2 separate regions of the Homo sapiens genome follow, and region 2 is linked to region 1. Evidence: fine-mapped expression QTL. A gene starts in region 1. The other region holds a variant in brackets. All regions are shown on one strand. Distances are from middle to middle.

Region 1 (2,913 bases):
CCAGACACTGTGATTGTGGGGAATGTTGTTATAATAAAAAGAAAGATTGTGTATTAGAAGAAACGTATTTTAGTGAATTAATTTGGAGGTTCAAGGTTTAAATGCCATTCTCTAAAAATCTCTAATTGTGCACAATACAGATGTTATTTTTCCATCCTTACATTTTACATATCCATTATGAAATTCCAGTAATAAGACGATGGTAACATTATCAATTTGGGTTAACAATTATTTAGCAAATTCGTCTTGCCAAGTCATTTTTACCCTTCACCAGAAGAAATATATGTATTAGTATCTCAAGAATAGTTGACATTGCTAGCATATTGCGATTTGGTTCCTGGTGTTGGCAATCTTTGGTATTTCTAGTCCTGAGTGCTAACCTACCACGCAACAGAACCTCAACCCCCGTTCTAGGATACTTGGGCAAATATATATTTATTAGTCATATATTTATATATTTTTAACGATATTGTCATGTCTTTCCTCTTGAAATTATCTTGAAATTCTATCTTCCTGAGGGCTGGTTAAAGAAAAGGCGCCACTGAACCACCCAAGATTGAACAATTCACACACACACACACACACACACACACACACACACACACGAAGGTGTAGCTTGAAGCGCCTGCTTTCAGTCTTTCCCAGTCTTTCCAAGCATCTCTCAGGCTGAAAGCAAGCGGAAGTGATTGAGAAATCCCTCCAGGGACTGGTGCCTCCCACAGGGATCTACAACTTTACACTCCATCCCCCCTTCCCCTCCCATCTCTAAACCCCCTGGTAGTGAGGGGCGCCAGAGTCCCCGCCCCTTCTTGCTGCCAAAATTTGTTCTTAACCTTTTTTGGGGCAGGGGACCTACAGAATGCTATGGACCCTCCATGAATGGTGACAGAGGTTGGTGGAAAGCACAGCTTAAATATTTTGCGAAATTTTCAAGAGACCACGTATTAGAAACACACTCCGACCTGCAGGATTAAGAACCCCATTTCTAAAACTCTTGACTTGGGGTGATTAAATCGAGAGCGGAGCTCAGGTGCCAAATCTCTTCCCGAATGAAAAAGTGTAGGAAGGGAAGGCGCTCCGGCGCTGGGCCACTTTCACTTGTAAGAAACCAAAAGATGGGGACTGGTGGCAAGAGATGGGGACGGAAGAGAAAGGAAAGGAAAAGGAGAAATGTGAGAAACAGACAGGGACACGGTGGGGCGGGGAGAAGACAGACATCACAGGGGAAAATGGGGAGAAGGGACAGAGTCCGAGAGGCACAGCAGCAGAGAGACAAGGGGGAGGAGGAAAAAGAGACTCGGAAGGGAGGAGAGAGAGGAGAGGAGAGGAAAAAGACGAGAGGGGAAGTGGCTGCACGCGCGCCAGGAAAGGGAGAGAACTTTCCCTGCTTTCCCTCCCCGGGGCAGGGAATCTCAGAAAACCCCACTTCAGCGAGGTGGCGGGGACCAGGAACAGCTGCCCCGGCGCTGGTGACGCCTCTGGCCTCCGCCTCTTGCAGCCGGCAGGGCCTCCGGCTGCGAGTCCCGCACGGGCCGGCCGAGGAGGGGACATGGTCTGGAAGGAGGCGGTCCCCGTTCGTCTCGCTTTCTCCTCCCCTCTCCTCCTCTTAGAGGCGTGCACCGGGGGCATTTGAGAGGCTGTGGACCCGCGGCCCCCCCGCCTCCGCCCCCCCAGCCCCCCATTCAAGAAGCCGCTCAGCTATCCCGGCCAGCACAGGGCGCCCGGCGCGCCTCGGAGCGCAAGTTCCTCGCCTTCTCCTGCCCGCTCGCTGGGCATTATGCGGCCAAGCAGCCGAGCCCCAGTCCTCCTCCTCCTCCTGCTCCTCCGGCTCCTCCTGCGGCCCGAGCGGCTCAGCTCTCGGCAGGCGGCGGCGTTGCTCAGCCGAGCGCAGACGGGACCCTCGCAGCGAGACCTCAGCGACTCCTAAAGTCAAAAGTTGGCGGCGGGCGCCGGGCTCCGCGCGCTCTCCACGGCCGCTGCCTCGCGTCGCCGCCGCAGCCAAGGAGGGCAGGAGGGAGGGGGGTGGGGGCAGCGGAGGGAGGGGTGGGAAGCACCATGCAGTTTGTATCCTGGGCCACACTGCTAACGCTCCTGGTGCGGGACCTGGCCGAGATGGGGAGCCCAGACGCCGCGGCGGCCGTGCGCAAGGACAGGCTGCACCCGAGGCAAGGTAACCAGGCTCCGGCCCCCGGGACCCCGCCGGCCCCGACGCCGCCTCCCGGTCCTCGCTCCTGGGCAGGGGCACCCCGCAGCGGAGGCTTCTCTCCTTTTCCTAGAAAGAATTATCTCCCGCTTTGCAGCCTCTCCCTTCTTTGGGTCATCCCCAACCAATTGCTAGGGAGGGACACTATGGAAACGAATTTAGGCAACCCCCCCCTACCTTGCTGTTGCCAGATATATCCCCATCCCCACTCCCACGCCGCAAACTAAAGTAACTTAGTAATTGGGGGCACCAGATAGCGTCATGTTTTATTTTATTCAGGTTATTTATCAATATCTGAAATCATATATATTTTGACTTGTTAATTGTCTGGCTCGGAATAGTGTATCCTCAGCACCTAGCACAGGTCCTGTTACTGGCACATAGTAGGTGCTCAGCAAATATTTGTCCACTGATTAAGGGTGAAGGGATTGACTCGAATGGGCTGGAAAATAAGGTCAGAACAAAGTCCCCACCTTCGTTTTAAATTAAAGCTTAAGGAAAAATGAATTATTGGTTCATATACCTCTGCTTCTCTCCGCAGTGAAATTATTAGAGACCCTGAGCGAATACGAAATCGTGTCTCCCATCCGAGTGAACGCTCTCGGAGAACCCTTTCCCACGAACGTCCACTTCAAAAGAACGCGACGGAGCATTAACTCTGCCACTGACCCCTGGCCTGCCTTCGCCTCCTCCTCTTCCTCCTCTACCTC
Region 2 (2,913 bases), 22 kb after region 1:
GGCCCTGGGATGTTCAGCGTCTTATACTACTTCAAATAGATACTTTAAATATTTTCTCAAGTTATTTCAAGTGTCCCTCAGTTTCCTCATTTCTGAAATGAAGGTAATAGTTCCTACCATATCGGGTTGCTTTGAGGAATAATCAAGTTAATCCATATGAAGTGCTTAGGAGAGTGCCTGACACAGAGAAAAGCAACTCAACAAACGTTGGCCAGTATGATTATAGCCTATAGTCATTGTTGTTATCACACTTAGTTGAAGGAGCTACAGAATGGAGAATGAAAAGGACACAGAAGGGCTTTTGGGGGTAGTGCACCCAGCTCTCATGCCCAAGTCAGCAAATTTAACTCCCCAGGTAGCTGGAGGCACCCACCCCCTTAGAAGGTATTGAGGGGACCCTCAGACACCTTCCACTGCCCACCACCGCCCCTTAAAAGCCAAGAAGCTTCTCAGTTGTTGCCTTCCACTCGCACGCCCTTCTCTCCCTGAGAGGGAAGCCCATCCACACATCCCACCTGCGTCTTGTTATAGTTCTAGTGATGGTGCTGTCCCCATCACTTGCCTCTTAACTTGGCAAAGATCCCGTAAGTTTGGCAATCATGCGACTCAGCACATGTAAACTGGTTTCTTTCCTGCAAGACTTCTCAGGGCTCTTAAAATGCTAATGTGCATGGAGAAAGTTCCAGATGTGCATGCTGTGTTAAGTGTTTTGCAAAGTTAATTGATTTGTTTTTGGAACTATCTTATGGGACTAATGTTCCATAAACCACTCTCATGGAAACATAGTTTATAAAGGTTCAGGCCAGCCCAAAGTGAGTCTTAGCCACAATCTCTTCTGCCACCACTCTTTGTATTTATTTACTGTCAGCACTGTGCATGTAGCACTACTTGACACTGGGCACATCACTTAAAAAAATAATAATAAAACAAAAAAACAACAGCTCACACTATTATTTGTTTGGTTGATTTTTGTTGAGACAGGGTATCCCTATGTTGCATATGCTGGTCTTGAACTCCTAGCCTCAGGCATTCCTCCTGCCTTCACCTCCTAAATTTCTGGGATTACAGGAGGATCCACTGCACCCCATCAAAGATTCTTTCTAAAACAAAATTGTTTTGTTTGAGAATGTCAATATACTAATTTATAAAGATCAGATGTTTTGCATGCTACAAGTAAAACAATACCACTAATAATTATTATTATGTTAAATATGTATTGGACCTGTCCTCTGTGTCATGCCCTGCTTTAAGGGCATTTTATGTATTATCTCTTTTAATCTCCACAGTTACTCTTTGCAGTATGCTGTTATTACCATCATTTTACAGATGAGGAAACTGAGGCTTTAAAGAAGGAAATGACACAAGAAAGGGCAACTAGAGTAGCTTTAGGGGAGGAATGGAAACCAGGGTTGGCCTGGCTCCAGAATCCAAGTGGAACACCACAGATGATTCCTGTGCAGACTTCCTTCTCTCTGTCAAGCTTGGGTGGAGCAGAAAGGGGTCTCGCCTTGCTCCTGAATCCTCCCTTTGGTCCTGTGCTCTGTGAAGTCACAAGGTAGCCCAGCGCCTTGAGGAAACTCAGTTAAATTTTGATAAACCTTACAAAATAGAGAGCAATAATTAACTTTCCAACTGTTAATGTTAACATTCAGATCTCCTCGGCCCAACCCCATTTGGTAGGAAACACTTCAGTGAGTAACCACTGAATAA[C/T]GAGGCCTGGCTGGTATTTGCTGAAATAATTCCAGTTATTTAGTAACATACTGTGCATTTTATTGTATTGCAACGTGAAGTGAAGCTCATTTAAAACATTTTTACCAATAAATCAGCAGATGTTAAAGTTTTTTGCTGTGAGGTTTTTTAAAATAAGGATACTATCTTAAATTTTTGTAATCCTTTTTTTAAAAGATTGGACCCACGTTTTATTCTTGTTTTGTCATTGCTGTTGTTTATTTCAACTTATCTAGCCCAGTACTTGGCACAAAATCGATGTTCCACGAGTGAATTTTTTTAAAAATGTAACTTATAATTTATAAGAAATTCTCTATATGCTTTCTTATTTAATTCTCAAAATAGCCATAAGATGGAAGCAAGTATTTATATGCCCATTTAAAGGTCAGGAAACTGAGGCCCAGAGAAGTGACTCAGAAAAGAGCCTTCATATGGGATAGTAGGGTGAAGACCAGCCCTCAGCACTTCTGGTTTTGTAGTTCCTCCTTTTTTCACAGTATTAAAAAGTTGGATGTCAGAAATGCAATCAGGCACACTCTGTGCTGATTTGCCCCACTAGGAGTATACAGCTCATGGCTTTGAAATTGTTAATGTAAGCCAGAAAATTGTTTTTAAGCACACTTAGTCACTCTACCTTAAATGGTTCCTTTTAGTTCCAACTCACTTTATGACTTTGTGACTGGCAAAAAATAGAAAAATATGATAATGATATTTATTCATTCGTTCCTATGCACTAGGCACTGTGCTAGCCCTTTGCATGCATGATCTCCAATTATTCCTCAAAGCCACTCTATGAAATAGGTACTGTTCTTACTCCACATTGTAAGTGGGAGGACGGAGGGTGAGCAGGAGTCAGTTATTTGCCCAAGGTCAAATAGGACTTAAATCGGGCCTCCCTCCCTTCATTGCATGAGTTCTTCAAACATTGGCTGTTTGTGGCAGTGTAAGCGTGACTACTTCCCTTTTGTGAGCATCGACGCCAAAGTAGTTGCAAAAGCCTGTATTAACTCATGTCCTTGTAATAAAATGTGAGAACTGTAATACCTATGATGTGGCGATAGGAAACATACAGTTGCCAGTTAGAGCTTTTTTAAACACGTCTAAATTTATTTAGATGCATATATGAGGATTCAGATTGCTAAGTATTACACTTTTCTTCTAATGCAAACATGCGTTTACTACTTG

What was found. PIP is the estimated chance that this variant, and not a neighbour inherited with it, causes the effect. A credible set is the group of variants that fine-mapping cannot tell apart.
Region 2: its variant is the best candidate, but not a certain one, in a credible set for the expression of ADAMTS9 in fibroblasts (GTEx, PIP 0.58).

The regions. Positions count from the first base shown.
Region 1 is chr3:64,686,800-64,689,712 of GRCh38, reverse strand. It overlaps ADAMTS9 (ADAM metallopeptidase with thrombospondin type 1 motif 9), which reads left to right and starts at 1,713. Exons shown (of 40, transcript NM_182920.2): 1 at 1,713-2,170; 2 at 2,745-2,913. The coding sequence starts at 2,056. The region is part of intron 1 of ADAMTS9-AS2 (ADAMTS9 antisense RNA 2); the gene reads right to left.
Region 2 is chr3:64,665,042-64,667,954 of GRCh38, reverse strand. All of the region lies in intron 3 of ADAMTS9 (ADAM metallopeptidase with thrombospondin type 1 motif 9), which reads left to right. Among named protein-coding and RNA genes, the nearest start is that of ADAMTS9-AS2, 18 kb to the left of the region's middle. The variant C/T (reference allele first, on the strand shown) is at 1,711.